Regions from separate parts of the Homo sapiens genome. Here all the other regions are linked to region 1. Evidence: fine-mapped expression QTL. A gene starts in region 1. Each other region holds a variant in brackets. All regions are shown on one strand. Distances are from middle to middle. Region 1 holds the start of GLB1 (galactosidase beta 1). Region 2 overlaps SUSD5 (sushi domain containing 5). Region 3 overlaps GLB1 (galactosidase beta 1). Region 4 has its middle 37 kb from the start of CCR4. Region 5 overlaps GLB1 (galactosidase beta 1). Region 6 overlaps CRTAP (cartilage associated protein).

What was found.
Region 2: its variant is fine-mapped to the expression of GLB1 in whole blood (TOPMed, PIP above 0.99).
Region 3: its variant is fine-mapped to the expression of GLB1 in T cells (TOPMed, PIP above 0.99). The same link has a PIP of 0.9 or more in monocytes after LPS and monocytes after Pam3CSK4.
Region 4: its variant is fine-mapped to the expression of GLB1 in whole blood (INTERVAL, PIP above 0.99).
Region 5: its variant is fine-mapped to the expression of GLB1 in cerebellar hemisphere (GTEx, PIP above 0.99). The same link has a PIP of 0.9 or more in blood mononuclear cells.
Region 6: its variant is fine-mapped to the expression of GLB1 in monocytes (Quach 2016, PIP 0.93).

The regions. Positions count from the first base shown.
Region 1 is chr3:33,095,289-33,099,376 of GRCh38, forward strand. It overlaps GLB1 (galactosidase beta 1), which reads right to left and starts at 1,858. Exons shown (of 16, transcript NM_000404.4): 1 at 1,723-1,858. The coding sequence starts at 1,797. It overlaps TMPPE (transmembrane protein with metallophosphoesterase domain), which reads right to left and starts at 1,858. Exons shown (of 2, transcript NM_001039770.3): 1 at 1,431-1,858. RefSeq lists a silencer at 1,446-2,055.
Region 2 is chr3:33,150,834-33,154,921 of GRCh38, forward strand. SUSD5 (sushi domain containing 5) reads right to left here. Exons shown (of 5, transcript NM_015551.2): 5 at 1-3,200. The coding sequence ends at 1,909. Among named protein-coding and RNA genes, the nearest start is that of CRTAP, 39 kb to the left of the region's middle. RefSeq lists an enhancer at 1,982-3,181. The variant T/C (reference allele first, on the strand shown) is at 1,813.
Region 3 is chr3:33,028,345-33,032,432 of GRCh38, forward strand. All of the region lies in intron 10 of GLB1 (galactosidase beta 1), which reads right to left. Among named protein-coding and RNA genes, the nearest start is that of GLB1, 67 kb to the right of the region's middle. The variant A/G (reference allele first, on the strand shown) is at 1,791.
Region 4 is chr3:32,986,529-32,990,616 of GRCh38, forward strand. It overlaps a transcript of GLB1 not described here. Among named protein-coding and RNA genes, the nearest start is that of CCR4, 37 kb to the left of the region's middle. The variant C/A (reference allele first, on the strand shown) is at 1,984.
Region 5 is chr3:33,043,226-33,047,313 of GRCh38, forward strand. It overlaps GLB1 (galactosidase beta 1), which reads right to left. Exons shown (of 16, transcript NM_000404.4): 10 at 2,895-3,007. Among named protein-coding and RNA genes, the nearest start is that of GLB1, 52 kb to the right of the region's middle. The variant A/C (reference allele first, on the strand shown) is at 2,483.
Region 6 is chr3:33,119,649-33,123,736 of GRCh38, forward strand. It overlaps CRTAP (cartilage associated protein), which reads left to right. Exons shown (of 7, transcript NM_006371.5): 2 at 696-845. Among named protein-coding and RNA genes, the nearest start is that of CRTAP, 7.7 kb to the left of the region's middle. The variant G/A (reference allele first, on the strand shown) is at 1,622.

The DNA.
Region 1 (4,088 bases):
CGCTGGGTCACGAGGTCAGGAGATCGAGACCATCCTGGCTAACATGGTGAAACCCCGTCTCTACTAAAAATACAAAAAAAGAAAAAAATTAGTCGGGTGTGATGGCGGGCGCCTGTAGTCCCAGCTACTCGGGAGGCTGAGGCAGGAGAATGGCGTGAACCCTAAAGAAATGTAAACAAGGAGATAATGGAAAGCTAGACTGCTGGTATCTTTCTTTAGCTGTGGGCACAGAAGCCCAAGAGGGACACCTAGGCACCTGAAATGAGAATTCCTGGGGTGATGCCAGCCTCCCTGTGTGGGCCTCAGGTATGGCAGCCACAGGGCATCCACCCTGACCCAATGACGCTGCACAAGACTGATGAGCTCACATCAGACAGATTGACCCTGTCCACCTGTTCCTGGTTCATAAATCCTTCTCTCTCTCCCTACCCCCACTCCCAGATACTGGTTAAGATCTGCCTTTCCCCTAGCCCCTTACCCTGCCACTGTTCTCCTGAACTGTGCCCCAGTTCCACCTTCCCCAGTGGTTCTCACAGCTGGCTAGCTCTGACTCCTAAGGTCCTACGGGCCTTCTGGACAAGAAAACTCTGTCTACATACTGGGGTAGGGGAACCACAGACGGGGTGAAGAGGGAGCAGCAAATAATCTGTGCTGACTTTTTCCCAAAATGAAAACATTTTCAGCAGCTGTTTTCCAAATACTTAAGATGTTCAATCTTGGTTGTAGATAAATGTACCACTTTTCTCTGCCCTAGGCACGTTATTGAAAGCGTTATTAAAGGGTGTAACTTACAAGTCAACGGTGTCAAATGCTACCAGCTCTTACTTAAAGCATACTGCAGGCTCAGCCCACCTACACCCTGGAGGAACCAAAGTTGGTCCGCGGAACGTGCAGAGGAGCAGCTTGCAACTACCCACTCTCCTTTCCGCAGGTGTGATGCAAACCTCCCCAGGCAGCGCTTTGGAGCCCCTCAGCCAGTCGCCTCAGCTCGGACGCAGCGAGTGAAGCTGTCCTTCCTCTCCCACCAACTGTGCACGCCCCGCACCTCACCTATTCGCCTCGCCAGCCCTGCCCCGATCAACGATGGCATCCCCCGGCAGCCTGCCTATTCCCCCCCTCAACCTGGACCCCCAAACGCCGAAGGAAAACGGTCCCACAAATACAAAGAAAAACCCAAGCCAAAGGGCAGGCGACGGGGAGTGGTGAGAAAGGAACAAGATGCACGAAGAGGGAGAGCACCCAGAGGGGAAATAACCCAATGTTCCCACTGCAAGGGCCTCTCCTGACCCCATTTTTCTCCTTCCGGAGCGCTCCGCAGAGCACCAACTGGGAAAGCGAGGGCGCCCCAAACCAGAGCCGGAGGCACCCTCTAACCCGCGCAACTTGGAATCCCCTCCCGGAAAGCCAACTTAGGAAATGTTTACACGCACCTCGTCTCAACACCTCGTTACAGATGGGGAAGTGGATCCAAGCGCAAAGGGCGGCCGGAGCGGAACGCACAAGCGACCGAGCTGCCTGGAAGGACGCGCGCCCCGCCCGGCCCGCCCCCGACGGGAAGGCCGGTCCACTGCCTGCGTTCCGCCGGCCGCGAGCCTGCTGGGGGGCACTTCGGGGCTCAGGCTCCCCGCCCTGCGGGACCGCGGGTGGCTGCGACCCCAGCCCGGTTCCCCGCCAGCCTGTCCCCTAGCAATGCCTCCCCGTACCCGGGTCCCGCAGACTTACGCGCAAGCCGCGCGTAGGGCCCAGAAGCAGCAGAACCAGCAACAGAGGGAGGATGCGAACCAGGAACCCCGGCATGACCACCAGCCTCCCGGCTCTGCAGTCGGCGCCCAGGCCGGCCGCTTCGCGTCACTTGACTAAGGACCCACGGCCTGGCACCGCCCCTCGTCGGCCCAGCAGCCAGCCCTCGCGCCTGCTCAGCCCCGCGCCCCGCCCCGCTGTGGCCGAGCCGGGCGGGTGGGGGCGGCTAGGAGGCTGCGCGCCGCCGCGTGACTCCAGGATAGTACTATCTGGGTTTTGCAGGCGTCTTCCCTGGGAAGGGACCCTTTGGAACTGCAGTCCGGAGGGCCTGCTTTCAGCAGCTTGATAACGCGCCTCGGGGATTGGACATGAATCATGGTCTCCCTGTTCCCTGGCTGCCTTGAGAGAGCAGAAGAGGGAAATTGTTAATCATTAAACCTAAACGCCCTAGATGGAATCCGCGTCTCATATACGGGCTCTTTGAATAACTCTAAGCCGGGGGTTAGCAAAATGTGGTCGGTCCCTGGAGCCACTGTATCAACTCACCTGGAACTTGTTAGAATGAAAATCCTGCTCACGCCTGTAATCCCAGCACTTTGGGAGGCCGAGGCGGGCGGATCGCCTGAGGTCAGGAGTTCCAGACCAGCCTGACCAGTATGATGAAACCCCGTCTCTACTAAAAATACAAAAATTAGCCGGGCGTGGTGGCAGGCGCCTGTAATCCCAGCTACTGAGGAGGCTGAGACAGGAGAATCGCTTGAACCCGGGAGGTGGAGGTTGCAGTAAACCGAGATCGAGCCATTGCGCTCCAGCCTGGGCAATAAGAGCGAAATTCCGTATCAAAAAAAAATTTTCTTTTTTAAAATAACCTTAGTTTATGCCTTGGTGTTCCAAAAAGCCTTTTTACATTGTATAACAAAGTAGCCAAAATTCTATTTGTTCACTCCTTTCTCCTTTCCTACCGGACATGTCCTTGAGAGATTGAGAAAGTATCAGAAAGGACATTTCATTGAGAGATTGAGAAAGTATCAGTTACTGGCTTTTCTTAGGTTTTTGTTTTTTGGTTTGGGGGGTTGTTTTTTTGTTTTGTTTTTGTGTTTTTTGAGACAGGGTCTCACTCTGTCACCCAGGCTGGAGTGGGGCGCAATCACGGCTTACTGCAGCTTTGGCCTCCTGGGCTCAAGCAATTCTCCCGTCTCAGCCTACCAAGTGGCTGGGACTACAGGCGTGCGCCACCACACCCGGCTAATTTTTGTATTTTTTGTAGAGACAGGGTCTCACCACGTTTCCCAGGCAGGTCTTGAAGTTCTGGGATCAAGCAATCTACCTGCCTGGAACTCCCAAAATGCTGGAATTACAGACATGAGCCACCGTGCCTGGCTTCTTTTCATGCCTGTAGTACCAATTCCGTGTCCTTGCACTGTGAAGTCCTTTCCAAGCTCTGCAATTCTAGTTCAGTATTAAAGAACAAGGGCTCTGGAGGAAGTACACTTGAGTTGGAATTCCAGCTCTGCCACTTACTGTCTGTGTAACTGTGGGCAAATTACTTAACCTCTCTGAGCTTAGTTTCTTTGTTGGTAAAGCAGGGCTAATAATATCAAATTCACTGGATAATTGGGGAAATTACCAGAGATGATGACGATAAGAAGCTTGGTATATACAGGATGTTAGTGGGACAGTTGATGAAATCAGAATTAGACTTGTAGGTTAGATTAGTACCATGCATCAATGTTAATTTCCTTTTTGGGGGGGTGGGGGGACAGAGTCTCACTCTGTCACCCAGGCTGGAGTGCAGTGGCACAATCTCGGCTCACTGCAACCTCCGCCTCCCAGGTTCAAGTGATTCTCCCACCTCAGCCTCCAAAGTAGCTGGGATTACAGGCACCCACCACTAGGCTTGGCTAATTTTTGTATTTTTAGTAGAGATGGGGTATCACCATGTTAGCCAGGCTGGTCTGGAGCTCTTGACCTCAAGTGATTTGCCCACCTCGGCCTCCCAAAGTGCTGGGATTACAGGCATGAGCCACTGTGCCCGGCCGCATCAATGTTAACTTTCTGATTTTGATAATGGTACACGGTCTAAATATTAAATAATAGTTTTGTATTAGTGTATTGATTTGGGTAACGGTAATGGTAATTTTGGTAATGGTTATATAAAAGAACATCCTTGTTTTTTAGGAAACAAAAGGGCATCATCTTTGCAACTGATTCTCAAACAGTTCACAAAAAAAAATGGAGAGAGAGAGAAAGAGAGAGAGAGAGAGGGAGAGAAATGGTATTCCAGGCATGAAAAGAACGTGAGAAAGAAAAGCAAATGTGGTAAAATGTTAACATTTGGAAAATCAATG
Region 2 (4,088 bases), 56 kb after region 1:
TCAGGATTTCCCTCTACCACACAAAAACACTTAGACTGCTATGGTGTCTCAAAATAAATGTGTTGCATTCATCACTTTTTACCACTGATAACTATTTCTAAGAAGGTGATTCATATTAGAAAAATATAACATGTTTCATTTCTGTGCCAACATACAGGAGACTATTGCAGGTGGCATTTAGGCAGCTTCAAATGCCACCTCAGCTGCACACAGCCATGCCTGACTTCCACACAACACACACCACATACTCATCTGTGCCTTTAGGGCTTCAGCTGGCCTCGAAGTTCACATTTGAGATTATTATAAACCAACAGGCTCTCAAACTTGAGTGCATATCAAAATCACCTGGAGGGCTTGTTAAAAACAGAACTGGGCCCTACTCCCAGGGTTCCTGTTTCCTGAGTCCAGGGTGGGACTAGAGAATTTGCATCTCCAACAAATTCCCAGGTGACGCTGATGCTACTGGTCTGAGGACCACACTTTGAGAACCACTGCCATAAACCATCCTCGCTGAGCCACCCTAAGATGATTTAGATGCTACGAAATGGGTTACCCAACAGACAGGATGGATTCTGTTTCCACAGAGCTCCCAGTTTCCACACTAGAGAACAGATCAGCACAGATCATTTCATATTCTTTCACAGATTCTTCTGCTTCTCCATCAAGTATGTGCCCATACTTGATAACCTGGTGTTCGGCCCTCTGAAAACATTTCTTTTTTTTTTCTCCCGTGTCATTCTCTCTTACTGGAGTTCAGAGAAATGGTTAATCCTGAGAGAGGAAACCAAGGACTGAGTTTTGTTAGTCCTGGCAAAAATTCCAAGACATTCCTAGGCACAGACTGGTCAAGGACAACTAGGCCACTGCTTCTGAGAGGAAATGGTACTTACTGGTACAAAGCTAACTTTGTTTTTAAAAAATAATGGCAAATCCTTAACCATGAAATATTGAAAATAAAATAAAATAAATGACAGACTGTCCCACAGAATGGAGGGAACAGAGGGGGATGTGTGTTTCTTCACTCCTCAACTCCCCCAACAAAATGTCAGTCTTAAATTCTAATTTCAAGAAACAATGAAAAAAGAAACCTCAAAGCTTCTAGACTGTGTCCTGGCTCTTGGTTCATCTGCCCTCAGCAACATCACAACATTAAAAGGAAACAACCCATTATTCTTCCATATTCCTCTCCCAATAATTCAATATCCATGTCCTAGATAATACTGCTCTCATACACTTGGTTTATCATGACTATTTATAAAATTTCAGGGCATGAAGCTGGTGATTTTCTTTCTTCAAAAAGGTAATACTGTGATGTGGCTCACACCTGGAATCCTAGCACTTTGGGAGGCTAAGGAGGGCAGATCACTTGAGGTCAGGAGTTCTTGACCAGCCTGGCCAACATGGTGAAACTCCATCTCTACTAAAAATATAAAAAAATTAGCTGGGCATGGTGGTGCATGCCTGTAATCCCACCTACTTGGGAGGCTGAGGCAGGAGAATTGCTTGAACTTGGGAGGCAGAGGTTGCAGTGAGCTCAGATCGGGACACTGCACTCCAGCCTGGGCAACAGCATGAGACTCTGTCTCAAAAAAAAAAAGATAATACTGTGATGAAGGAAGAGGCGATTTTTGACCTCACACTGGAAACAGGGCCCAAGCACAGGTCTGGGATTAGTGTAGTCAATTCCAGGGCAGATGGTGGAGGAGACATTGACATGAGTGATGATGTCACCAAAGCCTCCCTGCCCTCCCAGGTGCTCCAGAGACACTTCTCAGCCTATAAAACAAAGGGCTGAGGAAAAAATGATGAGCC[T/C]CAGTCCACCTGCGTCATGCTCTAGTGAATTATCGTGTGATGTGTCACAGTTATTTTCCTCCCAAGTGGCTTTGGGAGAACCCACTCCAAAGGTGCCTAGACCTTCTCCATCTCGATCTGCTGGTGGTAGTGCCGAGCCTGCCGCTGGCCAACATTCAGCTTGTACACAGAGCTCTTGTGCTGGCACTTGCGGTAGCCCCACACCATCCCCACACCTGCCAGGAGCAGCAGTAGGCACAGGACGGTGACAATGGTGGCGATCACAGGGCCTCTGCTGAGGCCAGGACATCCGTCCCCCACACACGACTCCAAGGTGGGATGAAGCTCCTCACTTGCACCTGGCCCGGGGCCTTCCTGTCCAAAGAAGTCTTCAGACAGCAGGTATGGGAAGCTATCCTGGATCTCAGGAACAGTGGTTTCTACTGGAGGCTGGGTGGTTGCCATGATCGTTGAGGGGATGTGGTTAGGTGTCTGCTTGACAGTGTTCACTGTTAATATCTCCAGGGTGGAGCTGGTGAGCTCATAGGACAGGGTGGCCATGGGAGATTCCTCTGTGATGAATCTCCAGGGTAGAGTTGACTGGTACTTCGTCAAGTCACCATCCCCAATGCCCTCAGTCTCGGAAGCATTCACGGGTCTGAGCGCCAAAGCTTCCACATCTAGCATTTGAGATGGAAGAACTGAACTATGGGTCATGCCCTCGCTTGGTGTGAGGGTGCTACTCTTGGGCTTCTTAACTTCCACAAGAATGGGCTGATCAGGAGTAACTAGGACGTTTTCATCCAGCCCTACTGACCCATCCCCTCTGTCCCCATCTTCTTCCTCTTCTGCCTCTGTCTTCCTCCAAGCCCCCTCTGTCACAGGGTAGCCATCTAACCAGGACTCATCACTGCTGCTCACCACTGGATCTCCTGCCTTGCTGTCATTCTTGCCCACAAATGGCCCCGAGGGACCATCAGTGTTGCCGTAGATCACCTTGGTTTCAGGTTCACCTGGGACCAATTTTACACCACTGTGGTTGTCTCCAGCAGAAAACTGCTTTTTGGTGTCATCATCCACCTCCTTTTCCAACCCAGGCTTGTGGAAAGCCTCAGCAGGAAACCAGAACAAGTGCTTCTGGAGCAGCCGTGATCCTGGTGAATCTGCGGGGACACTGCTCCCAGCACCAGGCAAGCCTGTGGTTGGCACAAAGACTTTATCCCGGGCTATGTTTTCTCTCCCCACAGAAATGGAGACCAGACGGTCCTGTTTTGGAGCCTCCTCAGAGGAGTCTCCCTGACCCCTGTCCTCATCTGCCTCTGTCCGGGAATCCTCCATGAGCTCTCTGAATGACACAGATCTGTCATCAGGGAAGTTATCTTCATAGTCAATGTGTGCCTCAGCCTCATCTGGAAGAAAAGAGGGAAAAAACCTCATTAGCTCCAAAGGCACAGAGCCAGTATAGAACATAAGAAAAGGAAATTAAAAGCATAAAGGCTGGGACAGAATAAATAATACTGTTATTATTCACAGATGATATGACTGTGTATCATAGATAAACCCAAATAATCTACATATGAATATTACAAGTAACTAAAATTTAACATCTGAGCTTAGGCCGGGCATGGTGGCTCACACTTGTAATCCCAGCACTTTGGGAGGCCTAGGCAGGTGGATCACTTGAAGCCAGGAGTTCGAGACCAGCCTGGCCAACATGGCGAATGCCCATCTCTAATAAAATACAAAAAAATAGCCAGGCATGGTGGCATATGCCTGTAATCCCAGCTACTCAGGAGGATGAGACATGAGAATCGCTTGAACCCGGAAGGCGGACGTTGCAGTGAGCCAACATCGTACCACTGCACTCCAGCCTGGGTGACAGAGTGAGACTCAAAAACAACAACAACAAAAACAACAACTCAAAAACAACAACAACAAAAAACATGTGAGTTTATTAGGGATACTAGGTCTACAGTAAATATAAACATCAATTGTATTTCTAAATATTGTCAATAAACAGAAAATTAAAATTTAAAAGGATGCTATTTACAATAACATTAAAAAAACCAAACACATAGGAATAAATCTAACAAAAGATGTTCAAGACTTCTACATGGAATGATATAAGACATTGCTAAGCAAAATTAAAGAAGACTTAAATGAATGGAGGAATAGACCATGATCATGTAGTAGAAGGCTCAAGATCATTAAGTTGGCAATTCTGTCCAAATCGATCTATACAGATCTAATACAATTCCAATAAAAATCTCAGACATTAACTGAATGTTAAAGTTTAT
Region 3 (4,088 bases), 67 kb before region 1:
TGCTATTATGGTTATATCACCATTTTCAGCTTCTCTCCTAGTTATCTTTGTACCTTTAAAATAATATCCTTATATCTTTATTTATTAGTTCCATCAATTAGCATATTACCCTATGTCGCCTCTTTTTTCTCGTTTTGTTTTTTTGAGATGGAGTCTCAAACTTCATGTCTATAGCATTATCCTTTTAAATTTTTATTTTTTAAAAGTAACACTCTGAGTGTGGGGTGACTAGGTCAAAGGATATGAGTATAAGACTCTTAAAATAGTGTATACTCACATTTTCATCAAGTATCCATACTTGCTTATGTCATTTACCCAAAAATTTTTTTTTTTTTTTTGATACGGAGTTTCGCTCTTGTTGCCCAGGCTGGAGTGCAATGGCACAATCTCGGCTCACTGCAACCTCCACCTCCCAGGTTCCAGCGATTCTCCTGCCTCAGCCTCCCGAGTAGCTGGGATTACAGGCATGCACCACCACGCCTGGCTAATTTTTTGTATTTTTAGTAGAAACGGGTTTTCTCCATGTTGGTCAGGCTGGTCTCAAACTCCTGACCTCAGGTGATCCGCCCGCCTCGGCCTAAGTGCTGGGATTACAGGCGTGAGCCACTGCGCCTGGTCATCATTTACCCAATTTTCTATGTAGATCTTGATATTCTGATCAGTGATATTAGCTCATTATAATACAGATATTAAGCTTTCATCTGTCTATCCCATTTACTACAATTTTCTAACTTTTCATTTTAATATTGATGATTTTCATTGATACTAGTTTGATTATCATATAGCAAAATCCTCATCTTTACCTTAGCTAATTAATGTTTCAGAAAAGAAATGAACAAATATACCAAAATGCTATACTTCTAAACCATTATTTTTCCATAATAATTTGTGCTTTAATCATACTTTTCAGAGCAATCAGAAATGTTGCTTCTCATACTTAACCGGACACATTCAACACGGGAAGCTGCTCTTTTCCCTGTGGAATCCACTAGATTCAATGGTGACCAGCTTTTCCTTCACCAAGACCTCTAATGTTTTCATACATTCATCCAACAAACTCTTATTAAGAAAGTACTCTGTGTCAGGTCCTATGCTTGGTACTAGACTTATAAACCTATTCCAGAGAGTGAGAAATGTGTATAAATCAGTTATATTAATACACCACAAAAAGTAGTATTTTCACTAGTAAAGACACGGAATCAACCTAAATGACAATCAATGGTAGACTGGATAAAGAAAATGTGGCATATATACACCATGGAATACTATGCAGCCATAAAAAAGAAACAAGATCATGTCCTTTGCAGCAACATGGATGGAGCTGGAGGCCATTATCCTAAGCAAACTAATGCAGGAACAGAAAACCAAATACTGCACATTCTCACTTATAAGTGGGAGCTAAATGATGAGAACACATGGACACAAAGAGGGGAACAGACATCAGGGCCTACTTGAGGGTGGTAGGTAGGAGGAGGCAGAGGATCAAAGAATGACCTATCAGGTACTATGCTTATTACCTGGGTGACAAAATAATCTGTATACCAAACCCCTGTGACACACAGTTAACCTACACAACAATCTTGCACATGTACCCATGAACCTAAAAGTTAAGAAAAAAAAAAAAAAAGAAAAGTAATGTTTAAAAGATTTCTACAACATAAGTGATAGAAAACAAAATGTGACTAACTTGGCTGACAAGTGGGTCAAAGAAGACTCTGCAGATAAGGTAACTGAGGTGTGTCTTCATTTCCAGGTGAATAAAGGCAGAGGGTGCAGAGACCAGGAGGTAT[A/G]AACAGTGCTGTTTCATTCATGGAATTGTATATAGCTCCAACTTAAGGCCAGGAAGTCACATCTAAGAAGGGAGAATTGAAAGATGAGGCTGGAAAAATATAGGGGCCAAGTCATGGAAGGTATCCTGACCACATCAGTGTTTTAGATACTACACTTGATCTTAGCCAAAAGACTGAGAAGCGATCACATCAGTGTTTTAGAGAAATCACTCTGGGAGAGGGACTAGAAAAGCCAACTCTACAGGAAACGAAGAGACCAGTACTACAAGAGAGCAGGTGACACTTTAAAAGACTATTTAACAGTTGCTAAGTAATATTGCCTTTCTCATCTGTAACCATCAGACATAAAACACTGGTTTTCACCAGCACTATACATCAGCAAGAGACAGCTGTGTCTGCGTATCAAGCCAATGTCATTCCAGTCATAAACAGTGCAGGATGATCAATCAGCCAGTGTAGACAAATCCTGGATCAAATTTCAAACTTCATTAAGCTTTTGAAGTACAGAAAAAATCACTGTGGCTGTTCTCCCATCCCCTCTTCACCACTCAGCCCAGTTACTACCTTTGGGAATCCCAGAATCCACTCCAATTATCAAGGTCCTCACTACCACTTGATTAATTTCTACAGTGACCCATTTCCAAAACATCAGCGGAACTCTTACGTTGATGGAATCCCTATAAAGAACAGAAACAAAACTCTTAAAATGGGTCTTAAGTTGATTTGACAGCATACAAAAATAAACTCACCACTGCCCCTCTCAGGAATCAGTAGGGAAGAGGAGGTCGCTGCCCTATATTTTTATGGTTCATCCTCGAGGTCAAAGTGTTAACCATGTTTGGTTGAGTTTTACCCACACCAAAGCAAATACCTTTTAAAATGCAAATGTCATGAGCTTTGCCATGCCTTGAAGATTCATATGAAGACAACCGCCTGGGGGCCTTCACCACTGAGCACAGGCTTATGCAGCCTGCTGGGAGATTATCCCCAGGAGTCCATGTCAGTGAAATATATTGCCCATCACCACCTAATGTGTTCTTGAAATGGATTACAGAGGAGACATATTCCGCTTTTTGAGTCTTTGATGAAGGAAGGAGGCAGGTAGAGCTATATACAGGGGATATCTACCATCCAATTTCCTTTACTTGATGCAAGCAAATATTTTGAAGATCATTTAACAAATCAGCTAATGGAATGTCTACAAAGTCTCATAAGAAAGAGCCCACTGGCTGGGTGCGGTGGCTTACACCTGTAATCCCAGCACTTTGGGAGGCCAAGGCGGGTGGATCACTTGAGGTCAGGAGTTTGAGACCAGCCTGGCCAACATGGCGAAACTCCGTCTCTACTAAAAATACAAAAATTAGCCACGTGCATTGGTGTGCGCTTGTAATCCCAGCTACTCGGGAGGCTGAGGCAAGAGAATCACTTGAACCAGGGAGGTGGAAGTTGCCTGGGTGACAGAGCAAGGCTCTGTCTCAAAAAAAAAAAAAAAAAAAAAAAAAAAAAATATATATATATATATATATATATATATATATATAATCTCCACTAAATCTTGTAGTTAATTTCTCTTTCAAACCAGAAATATCAAAAAAAGAGGGAAAATATGACATGTTAAGCTGCAATCTATCATAAGCTATTGAATTACATTCATTTCTTTTTTTGTTTTGTTTTGTTTTTGAGACAGAGTTTTGCTCTTGTTACCCAGGCTGGAGTGCAATGGCATGATCTCGGCTCACTGCAACCTCTGCCTCCTGGGTTCAAGCGATTCTCCTGCCTCAGCCACCAGAGTAGCTGGGACTACAGGCATACGCCATCATGCCCACCTAATTTTTTAATTTTTAGTAGAGATGGAGTATCACCATGTTGGCCAGGCTGGTCTCGAACTCCTGACCTCAGGTGATCCACCCACCTCGGCCTCCCAAAGTGCTGGGATTACACACGTGAGCCACTGAGCCTGGCAATTTCTAAAGACTCTGTCTCCTTTGTGGGTTCTCTTACTCTGCCCAGTTGTTAAAGCTTGGGATCCCCTGGGTTTGTCTTTTGCTTGGCCCATTGCCCTCCTCAGTCAGCTCCCCATGTGCAGTCTCAACCTCTCCCTGGACTTCGGCTTCCATTTGCACTGATCGCCCCAGAATCTGCGCCAACCTTTCCGACTTCTCCCTGGAGTGTCTTACTATTAAGTGTTGGTGCTTATGGAGAAATCTGTCTACCTGGATGTTCCTGGAAATATTGAGCTGAATAAGCCCAGAATTGAACTTGCTTCCCCTGTCCCTGCCAGGGCCTCCTCTGCAATCC
Region 4 (4,088 bases), 110 kb before region 1:
TCACCTATGTCGCCGTGAATGGTCTTTCTCTCTCTTAGTTCTGGCCATCTACATAGACTGTTTCTCTTTTTTTTTTTTTTGAGATGGAGTCTCGCTCTGTCTCCCAGGCTGGAGTACAGTGGCATGATCTCGGCTCACTGCAACCTCTGCCTCCCGGGTTCACGTGACACTCCTGCCTCAGCCTCCCAAGTAGCTGGGATTACAGGTGTGTGCCACCACACCCAGCTAATTTTCGTGTTTTTAGTAGAGACAGGGTTTCACCATGTTGGTCAGGCTGGTCATGAATTCCTGACCTCAGATGATCCACTCGCCTTCGCCTCCCAAACTGCTGGGATTACAGCCATGAGCCACTGCTGCAATAGACTATTTCTTTAACCTGGAATACTCTTCCCCTACTGTTCACCTGACCAACTATTGCTCATCACTCAAGTCTCAGTTTAGAGACCGACAGCAGATGCTGATGATGCCCACCCAACTTTCCTTTATGGACTGGTGTACCCAGTCCCCAGCTACCATGAGCGTTGGCTGCTAACAGCTCACAGATGCCCTCTTCTCTTTTTTTATGGCCAATTCCCTACTACCTCCCCACAGTACAACTAGTCCTCCCCTCCCACCAGTGGCAGCCTGCGGCCAATGGCTGGCTGACACGGATGGAAGGTTAAAAGACTGGCCCTCTTGACTCAAGGTGCATCCAATTTTGTGGTGAAATTAATGTGTGTGAGTTTCTCTGGAACTAGCAGCCTGATCTGACCTAGGCTAGATACATGAGGGAGCCAAGCCAACATCAGTGGAGCCTGTTCCAGACCAGAAGAACCATATAGCAGAATCATGAACTAAACAGTTGGTTTAAGCTGAAAGTAGTCTCCTTGCTTACCTTTACTCTCTTGCCCTGCACCCTTCCCTCACTTCCTTTCTCCTTAGAGCATCCCCTCTGTAAACCACGTGCACACAAAGCCCTGTCTTTGGCTCTGCAGTAAGACAGAATGCCTGGCTGCCCAGGCCTGGATTGTGAACCCCTCTTCTGCTGCTCTGCCACTCTGTACTGTCTCTCACTATGGTGCCCATGAGACTGCATTGAACTGTCTATTTACTTATCTCTTCTACTAACTAAACCTTTTGAAGGCATAGGTCATGTTTTTATTATTATTGCTATTGATAGTATCTCAATACTCTTTTAAAAAGAGACTGAGAGATGGGGTGATAAAGTGGTTATCATTTTATTCTCAATGCCCAGCATGTATTAGGTACACCTTAATAGTTGAATGAATGAATGAGTGAAAGTTGTCCTGGATTTAACAAAGAGATGCAGGCTACAAGCATTTTTGCAGAGAATATTGGAGCTTAATAACATTTCCATAAAGAATGGATCTTAGAGGCTGGGTACGGTGGCTCATGCCTGTAATCCCAGGATTTTGGGAGGCTGAGGCAGGTGAATCATTTGAGGTCAGGAGTTTGAGACCACCTGACTAACATGGTGAAACCCCATCTGTACTAAAAAATACAACACAATTAGCTGGGTGTGGTGGTGCATGCCTGTGTCCCAGCTACTTGAGAGGCTAAGGCAGGAGAATTGCTTGAACCCAGGAGGCAGAGGTTGCAGTGAGCCAAGATTACGTCATTGCACTACAGCCTGGGTGACAGAGCAAGACTCCATCTCAAAAAAAAAAAAAAAAAAAAAAGGATCTTAGAGACTTTTAAGGTGCAAAGACCAAGGACTTAAGTGATAGGCTCACTGAAATGAAGAAGGGGAAATTTCAGTGTATAAAAAACATGGGAGCAGAAAATGGCAAAATTGGTCACTAAGAGAAAGAGGAAGAGTTGGGACCAACGTGTTGTTGAAGTGTCCTGCTCAGTGAGGAGGGACTGAAAGTTCAGTTCACACCTGCTGTATGGTATTCACATTCTACATATGTTACTATTCAGATAACATGGGCACTGACGTTTTATATCAGAGTGAAGAGTTGGTTGCTTTCAAAAGCATTG[C/A]TCTATCTGAATTCTTGAGATGGGTGGCTCCTTCCTAGCTATTAAGAGGCAAAATTCTGGTGCCCAGAGTGGAAAGAAAACCAGACAGTTAATCTCAGTCTTTTTACTCTGTCCTCCACTTCTGTTTCCTGAACAATCAGAATTCCATCTTTTACCAGGTTGGCTTTTGTAGAGTTTGCAGTGAACTGAGATGAATCTGCAGTGACTTCAGGACAGGATCTGGAATATGTATTTCAACAATATCTTCCTGTTATCAGCCTATCAGGCAATCACAGAAGCTTTTAATAGAAAGCTAGATAAAACTAGTCCTCCACCTAACAACTGTTTTTTCCTGTTTTTTTTTTCTACAAGCTCTTTTTTTCTTGTAGATATTTAGTACTGCAAAAATCCCATCTAGTGGAAGCCCTTGGCATGGTAAGGTTTGGTTCCAGGTAATCACAATTTTAGGGTACAAAACCATGAAAGACTTATCAAGATCACTGGGGTGGGGGTGGGGTGCTGGCAGCAGCACAGTGACCTCTGGTCCACTACAAATAAACTCTTCAGAGAGTTTCTTGAGTATTTTACCATATTTGTCCTTTGGACTTTGCAAATGGCTTCTTGATATCTGCCGATCATGGCAGACAGTGGACAGATGAACCCAGTTGCCCACCAGGGAAGTTGTGATGTTCTTAGCATCAGAAGGCCTCAGGTTGATGTCAGTCTGTGGTGCTTCTCTGCCCTCTCTCATGTCTCCTCAGCCCGTTTCACCTCAAGGAAGAGCTCCCCTCCAGAGAAAAACCGAGAGTCATCATTTGCCTGCTCAACTATGAATAAAGTTCCACGTACCTTCTCTCTGCTCACTTCTTTCAGAGGCACTTCCGGCTCACGAAACTCTTCAGCTAAGTTCCTGGGGAATTTGCTGAGTGTCAAAACATGAATTAAACCAGAAGAGATATGATAGTGGGTTTTGTCTGAGAGGGATGCCCAGCCTTGTGAATAAGTCATCTTCCAGTGTGGAGGATTGCTTGCTCCCTGACCTGTATCCACTGGGGACCCACATATACCGGGCATTCTGCTCACCAGAGACACACACAAGACTCATGGGTCAATCACCAAAACCTGGGGCCACAGCTCAGACCTGATCTGTCATGTCAGACAAGGCTGAAATATTGTTCTTCTGTGTTGTGAGTTTTCTCAAATACAATACAAAACTTTCTCCTTGCAGCTCAATCAAGGCAATCTGCATAGTAAGAAGAGTGTGGGATTTGGAGGCAAGAGACTTGGGTGTGAGTTTCAGGCCCCTGATTTTGTGTAAATCACAATTCTTCCTACCTCTTGATTTTCCTAAACTGTAAACTGAGCTGCATGCCACCCGCCCTATTTCTTCAAAAGGTTCTTATAAAGACTGAATGAAATACTGTATGCAAAAATAACACATTAAAACCACTTTATGAATGTTATTATTCTTATTAAGCACCATCAAAGTTGAAGACATGAACCTAGAAACTTCAGAGGACAAAAGATATGTGAAAATAACCAATTTTTCAGGATACTACCATCTGGTTGGAGATAGCTCTGATCCCTGCATCTCTCCTGCCTCATCTCTGTTCATTCCAACCCCAGTCAGATTGAGGTACATGCCACCAATTTCTGGAATTCTCCATTGTCTCTCCAGACCCTGGATCTCTGCAGATGCTGCCTCCCTCTGAGAAGCACTTTCTGCTCTACTCATGCCTATCTTTTCTCCTTCTTCTCTTATTCTTCACCTGGCTCAACTCCAGGAAGCCTGCCCTGACCAGTCTCTGCTCCACATCAAGTCTAAGACTGGATTCAGCATGCTCACAGCACTCTGATCTCATCGCTGTCATTGTCTACCCCTCACAAGCTACATGGTTCATTAATAGATCTGTGCGCTCCCTGAGGGGCAAGAAATGTGTCCTACACAGTGGCATGGGGTTTAGAGTAAGTATTGAATGAATGTCTATTGGGTAAATGAAAAAAACAAAACAAAACAAACCCACCTACTAAAATAGTTAAATGCTGAGGGGCTTATCCATCACACTAGAAGGGATACACCCTGAAACCTTGGGGACTCCTCACTGGGCACTTCTTGGGACACTTCC
Region 5 (4,088 bases), 52 kb before region 1:
GCAAAATGAATCTCTGGTGATAGAGGTGAGGACAGCTGTGAGCTCAGGAATGGGTATGTGTGTCAATGACTAGAGAGGGACATTAGAGGGGCTTCCGGGGAGCTATGTGTTTGTCACAGGGCTGCGCTCCCGTTGCCTAAATTCACTGAGCTGTGTACTACGAGTTGTTCTTTTCTGGGGGTATAGATGTCACACTTAAATGGTAACCACTAAAAAAATTAGAATGCAGTGAATAACTTCCAAAGTAGAAGAGGGGGGAAAGAAATAAGAGGAAAAAACAAAACAAAACAAAAAACCTCAATCTAAAAGAAAGCAATAAAGGGAAAGAAAGAGCCAAAAAGGTAAACGAATAGAAATTATAAAATAAGATAATTGAAATTCATCTATGTATATCAAGAAGTACAATGAATGAGAATGTATAAATATATCAGTTAAAAGACAAGAAATTTCAAACTAGATATTTTAAAAATTCGATTATATCCTGTTTATAAGGGACACATGTAAACAGAACAAAGGATATAAAAAGGATGAAATTACAGCATTGGGAAAGATACCTCAGAAAAATACCAAGCAAAAGTATGCAGGTAAATGGTGTTAATGAATAACAGACCAAAAAAAGAAAAAAAAAAAAAAAAAAGGCTTCCAGGCAAAAAGCCTTATTAGAAATAGAGGGTTATATAATCCCTTTACTATTAAGTACTGAAGGATGTAATTCTCAATTTGCCCACCTAATAACATAACCTCAGAACTGGCAGAGCTACAAAGGGAAATACATGAGGACAACTCTCACTAAATAGTAGACTGAACTGACAAAAAATTAGGAAGCAGATCAAAGATATCAATGGCACCATTAATAAACTTAATCTGATGAACATGTATGTAGAATATAGTCAACAACTGTAAAATATACTTTCTTTTTATGCGCACATTGACCATTAATATTGGTGTATGTCAGGCTCTAAGACTAGGCTCAGCAGCTTTCAAGGGATTGGTATCACAGACTATATTCTCTAACCAGAATGCAAAAAGACTAGAAATCAAAAAAACAGGAAAGTACTTATTTCCAGTAATTTAAAAAACACATATCAATGGTGAAGAGAAATCAAAATAGATATGTTTAGAAGCAAACAGTAAGAAATAGATTGCACATCAAAACTTACGAGATAAAGCCACAGCAGTACTTGAAGGAAATTTATAACCTTAAATATTTATATTAGAAAAGAAGAAAGGCTGCATTAAAAAGCTAAGCTTCAAATAAAGGAAGGAAATAATAAAGATAGGAACAGAAAGCTTCAAAACAGAACAAACATACAAGGGAGAGCTTGGGAGACATTACTATAAATTCTGTGGAGATTAAACCCATAATAAAGGAATAACATAAGCAACATTTTAACAATACATTTGAAAATTTAGATGAAATGGACAAATTATAAGTGTGGTAAGTCTAGATTGTATTTTTTATATTTAAAAAATTTGTAATATTCATTTTAACACATGCTTAAAATTAAAACGACATCATACTTAAAACAAAAAAAACCATACCATTTATAGGCAGAAAACCTTTGTTTTTTTAACTTCAAAACTCAGGTGACTGAGCATAAAAACTGTGGGTTTTTTCTTTTAACCCACAGCAGAGACAGGAAACCCCACCTAGGTGCATTAGGTGCCTCAAAAGGGTACAACGCTAGCAGGACTAAGCAGTTCAGATGCAGTCCAGAAACAGCAATCACTTGCTCCAAATAGAAAAATGAAGCTTCACTGACAGCTGACATCTGCACCATGCTTCACAGTATCTGAAGATTTTTTTTCCTATGTACATCAGCTATTTAAGTAGACACACATTTTCTTACATTTAAGATAAATAATAGTTAACGGCTACCACTTATTAGACATATATGTGTCAGGAACTGTCCTGGATGGCTTACATACGTTCTTTTCAAGCTTTACAGCACAACCAGATGCTGTAATCCCAGTTTTACAAATTAACAATCAGTAGACTGATTTGCTCATAGACTCACTCTTTTTTTTTTTTAGGTAAATAAATAATTATTGTTCATTTATTTGACTATGAAAGAAGAAAACAAACATTTATTGAGTGCCATTTATTTTTAAACTGTACAAGTCTGTGAGGTAAGTACGGCTACCTCTACTTTTATATAAAGGGAATTTACACAATTGGCTTAAGGTTGAAGAAATAGTGTCCAGGTTCAAAATCTGGTGTTCCTCATTCTGAAATCACATAGTCTGTATATTGGGCCACACATAAAAAGGAAAATAGTTTATCTTCTTCTCTCTTGCAAATAAGGACGGAGTTATTTTCTAGTGAGAAATAATTCTTATACACTTTGGTTACTGGAAACTTACTTTTTTCAGATGATGCATTAAATAAAGAAACCAGAGCTTAGCTTTACCTCTTTTGATATTGAAGTACATTAGCTGTGTCTCAAGGATAGGGGCTCCCATATATCCATGCTGCCTTAAT[A/C]GGGGCTATAGTCTCAAGAGGATCTGTGCATTCTCTCCCATCACCCTACCTCTCACCTGAACTTTTGGAAAGATAATCTGGCCTGGAAGGAGAAGAAAATGGAGACAGAAATTTCCCCGGGTGAATTCTCACCATATAAGAAGTGAATCTGTAAGTAGCATTTAACACTGTATTATATATTGCAGTTTTTAAATACATGTCTTATATCTCCTACTCTCCTATAAGCATCTGCTCATAGACTCACTCTTAACCACGTGGGTACAAGATGCAAACCCAAGTCTAGCTGATGCCTCCCTTCATCCATCCTTTTAAACAGGAGGGCTCCAGGCAGGAAGTTGTCCACAGAGCCACAGTGAGTTCAAAAGAGGCTCTGTCCAAGATCAGCCCACCACAGCTCATACAAAGCACCCACCTTCTGGATGATGTTTCGCAGAGCAAAATACTTCTCAGTGAGGTCCCCAGCCTCACTCAGTGGGGCATCATAGTCGTAGCTGGTGGGCTGTGCTGCATAGGGTGAGTTGGCCCCTAGAAGACAAAAATGTGCCACTAGTTATTACTGATGGTGCAGCTCTGGGACAAGTTCTTTGGGATCCATGAGCTCAGCACTGTAGAGAGAGAAAACTAGAAGACACATTAAAACCACTTGTTGGGAGACACAGACGTGACCCTCAGGATGCAACGTTTAGAGGAAGGAATTTCTTTCTACAGGTAGCAGTTACCAGGCACCTTAGAGTTTACCAAGGACTCTTTCCATCCACTCTCTACAGAAGCTCACAGCTGTGATTCTAGCAGGTATCACCCCCACTGGACAAGCAGGGAATCTGAAGCTCCCCACAAAAATCTGCTAACACCTCACAAGCAGTAATGGCAGGGCTTATGATATGACCCCCATCTCTGACTGTTAATCCTGTCAACTCTGAACTTTTTCACGTCCTCAAGCTGTGGCTGAGAAAAGCTCAGTGGTGAAGACACAGATGACTAGGCCATGGATCAGCAGAAAACCCAGGGCTTATTAAACCAAACACAGCGGGAGATGACAGCAGACCCACATCAGCCACAGAGGTTCAAACATAATCCGAGGGCCTTTGTTGCATCTACAAAGACTGTCGATGGGGCTGTGGTGCACCTCTTGGATCCCCCTTTAGAACCAGGGCACTCACTCATTCTCCCAGCAGCTAGGGCTGTTGTCTGCTGACATTTCTCAGATGTGTCCGTCTCTGGGTGCTGGCCTGTGCTGAGCTGCCTCACCCAAGGTTACAACCCTCAGGGATAGCCCACATCCAACAACTGACCAATGTGCCTCGAACAGCCAACCCAGCTGCAGAGCTCCCTCTAAGATTGGATGAGGCCACTTGTGAAGCTGCATCATAGCCCCACTTCTCCCTCTCTATCCTACAGGCATTGCTCCAGAGAGCACAATCAATAAGCTTTCTACCAGGTAATCTCAGAGTCTGTTTCCCTGGGAACTTGACCTACAACAAAGACCAATGGATAATGCCAACACTGAGTATACAAAAGGACTAGAAAAACAAATGCCCCTGCAGTCACTGTGCAAGGGGCGGGGTCTAGACCAGAGGATCCCGACCTTGTCAGGGATGATGTTCAC
Region 6 (4,088 bases), 24 kb after region 1:
GGAAAACAATATATTTGTCAAGGTGCCAGTGGAAAAGATATGGTGCAGTCATATTGGGTAATTGGAGGAAAGTTTAAGAAGGTGGTTATTTACAAAGGTGTGTGCAGTGCATGGGGAATCCACAAGAGATAGTGTTCTGCCACAGGGGTGATAGCAGTGGGATATGACCAACCCTAGGCCAAAAGGGGCAGGGGAGAGAGCAGTGATTGAAACCGGGAAGGAGGGAGACTCTATGGAGAGGGTCACCTTGAGAAGAACTGTGATCTTCAATTAAGGGACATAGCAGCCCAAGAGGACTGTGCAGGGAGGGAACCAGGAAATGAAATAACATGACCTTACTCTCTTCCCTTCCTCAGTCATCTACTGGGGCTCCTCATGGGTGAACCTCTTTGGAAGCCAGAGAGCGAGGGAGTCTGTTGTTATAGTCCACACAGGCCAGCCTCCTGGGGCATGTAGCCAGTGCAGAGTAGATTGGGAAAGGCAGACCGAGGCCATCCAGACAGTCGCTTTCAGGAAATCAGCACTTGTCTCACAGTGCCTGGACTTGGTCTTGAGGGGCCCTGGAAGTCATGGAACCTTTAGCTGGAAAAGTTATAGCAACACAAAGTTTCTGAAGGACTAAGCAGATATTCTTGTTTTACAAAAATTACCACTTAGCATCCATGGAGTAGCTTTTATGTTCTTTGTCCTTTTAGGCAAATAATCTCCCCAAAGCCATCGCCGCTGCTCACACCTTTCTACTGAAGCATCCTGATGACGAAATGATGAAGAGGAACATGGCATATTATAAGAGCCTGCCTGGTGCCGAGGACTACATTAAAGACCTGGAAACCAAGTCATATGAAGTATGTTTGGATTTTTATGTGGCAGTTAGTGGCAACCTGGACTGTTAAAGAAATGTCTCTCCATAAGCAGCTGCTGATAGCTAAGGACCTCTAGTGATTTTTGGTGACATTTGCTGAATATTATGACAATAGAAATGATTGACTTTTAGCACAAAGTGATCCATTTAATAATGATATTTTGTATGCCGTGATGATTTTAAAAGCCATGTTCCCTTTAAATGCTACATTTTAGAAATATGGTCATTTAATTATTTAGTTTTAAGAGGGTAGATTAAAGACATATCTTGGAAATCATCTAAAATGACCAGGAACACAAGAAATAGAAACATAAATCTCCAGTTTTGATGAAATGAGAAGGCATATATTTTTATACACACTTGCACACAAACGCACCCTAAATATATTAAGGTAGAAAATGAAGACGAGTTAGGAAGGCTGATGTGACAGAGTAGAGGACACTTAAATCTGCGCATCTACGAAGAAGAGTTTTGATGAGAATTAGTCGTAAGAACAACAATAAGAAAGAACGATCTCGCCCTTTTGAGCACTCACTATTGTCAAGGTCTTCTGGAACTCAGGCACTGGGGGCCTGGGTTTCAAGCAAGGGCAGGGCATTGTTGAAAATGGGAATTTGGCTGGGCACAGTGGCTCATGCCTGTAATCCCAGCACTTTGGGAGGCCGAGGCGGATGGATCACCTGAGGTCAGGAGTTTGAGACCAGCCTGGCCAATATGGTGAAACCCCGTCTCTACTAAAAATACAAAAATTAGCTGGGC[G/A]TGGTGACTCAGCATGTCTGTAAACCCAGCTACTCGAGAGGCTGAGGCAGGAGAATCACTTCATCCCGGGAGACAGAGGTTGCAATGAGCTGAGATTGCGCCACTGCACTCCAGCCTGGGCGACAGAGCGAGACTCTGTCTCAAAAAAAATGAAAGAAAATGGGGATATGTGGAAAATATCCACTAGAAGTTATAGTTCCCAAGGCCTGACCACAGGGTTTTCTGTAGAGTGATCAGATCTCAGGCTCACTTTTTGACTGCTAGGGAAAATGTATGTGTGGAAGTCTCTTTTTGGGGGTATCTGTCAGTTTTCCAGGGAAGACTTCACCAGCCTTCTGCAGGGCTGGTGGGGTGCGCATACTCCTCTGCTGGTGTCTGAGAACCAGTGTGGGGAGAGGGACAGGGTCACCCAGGTGAGTAGGAATACTTCACCTGCTTCCTGATTTTAGCCTCATGCCTCCACTTGGCCTCTGCTACGTCTGGTCCCTGACTCCTCAGCCTTTATGGGTAAAGTCTCTAGAATAAACTGCCACTCTCTGGTGAAGAGTGGCTTTGGGAGATATGATCTCTTGGGTGGGTGGGTAGGTGCTGGGAGCGGACCCAGGACCCCAACAGCCTGTTCAAACTTGCAGCCCTGCTTCTAGCTCCATGCCTTACCCCAGCCTCCCGTGGTCCCTCATGCCTGCGCATGCCAATGGGACATATAGCTTGCTTCCCCTCTGGCCCCTCCTTTGTGACTATTTCACTTCCTGCCTTTCCAAAAGTTGTTGAAATCTCATCTGCTGCTTGCTCCCTTCCCATTCTCCCATAAAAGCAATTTATGCCTTTCATAGTCTTCACTGTTGTTTTCATAGGGTTTGGGGAACGAAGCCGAGTGCGTGTGGTCAGTGCCCTGGGCTTATCTGGAATTCAGCTAGTCCTGTTGGCCCTCACTGGAGCCCTTTTGGGGTGGCTGTGCTGCCCTCCTGTGTGATCAGGGGCCTCCTCTTTCTGCTTGGTCCTTCTTGCTGCTGCTGCTGCCCCGCTGCTTCTGCAGAACCAGCTGTCTGGAGTTGGCTACTTATTGACCCATTCTTCAGGAAAGGCTCCTTCAGTTCTCAGCCTGTCTTATTTCCAGGGCATGTGGCCTGCCCAGGAGGTTTAAGAAAATCCACCCTCGGCCAGGCGCGGTCCTCATGCCTGTAATCCCAGCACTTTGGGAGGCCAAGGTGGGTGGATCACGAGGTCAGGAGTTCAAGACCAGCTGGGGCAAGATGGTGAAACCCTGTCTCTACTAAAAATACAAAAAAATTAGCCAGGCGTGGTGGCAGGCACCTGTAATCCTAGCTACTCGGGAGACTGAGGCAGAGAGAATTGCCTGAACCCAGGAGTTGGAGGTTGCAGTGAGCTGAGATTGCACCACTGCATTCGAGCCTGGGCAACAGAGCAAGACTCTGTCTCAAAAAAAAAAAAAAAAAAAAAAAGAAGAAGAAAATCCACTGTCTTTACCTGAGGCCTTAAGCTTGGTGAAAATTCTAGGTCTAAGGGGTGCCCTCAGATACCACCATTCCAGAGCAGCTGAGAACTCCAAATGGAGGGTCCCATGCTTATTCAGGGCCTGTCCTGGCCTCTGCAAGTTAGCAGGTTTTGTGTGTATCCAGGATCTCTACTTATTTCTTGGAGACCAAGCTACTTCCTTGGTCCTAGTTTATTTCTCTCTCTCTTTTTTTTTTGAGATGAAGTCTCGCCCTGTTGCCCAGGCTGCAGTGCAACGGCACGATCTTGGCTTACTGCAACCTCCACCTCCTGGGTTCAAATGATTCTCCTGCCTCAGCCTCCTGTTATTTCTCTTCTAATCGAGTCTAATCAACAATTAGCAGAAAGTCCTTGAAGTTTCCACTATCTGGCATGTGGTTGCCCTTCCTAGTAACTAGTGCTGATGCATGGTGGCACTTCTGTTTAACTGCATTGTCGGAGGAAGTGGGGTGACAGACACCTGCTGATATGGTTTGGATCTGTGTCTCCACCTAAATCTCATGTCCAGTTGTAATCCCCAGGGTTGGAGGTGGGGCCTGGTGGGAGGTGATTGGATCATGGGAGTGGATCCTTTATTAATGGTTTAGCACCATCCTCTCTGTGCCATTCTCATGATAGTGAGTGAGTTATCATGAGACCTAGTTGTTTAAAAGTGTGTAACACCTCCCCGCTCTCTTCCTTCTTCTCTGGCCATGTGAAGTGCCGGCTCCCTGTTTGCCTTCTGCCGTGATTGTAAGTTTCCTGAGGCCTCCCCAGAAGCAGAAGCTGCTATGCTTCCTGTATAGCCTGCAGAACCATGAACCAATTAAACCTCTTTTATTTATAAATTACCCAGTCTCGGTTTTTTTTTTTTTTTTTTTTTTTTGACAGAGTCTCGCTCTGTCACCCAGGCTGGAGTACAGTGGCACAATCTCAGCTTACTGCCACCTCCGCCTCCTAGGTTCAAGTGATT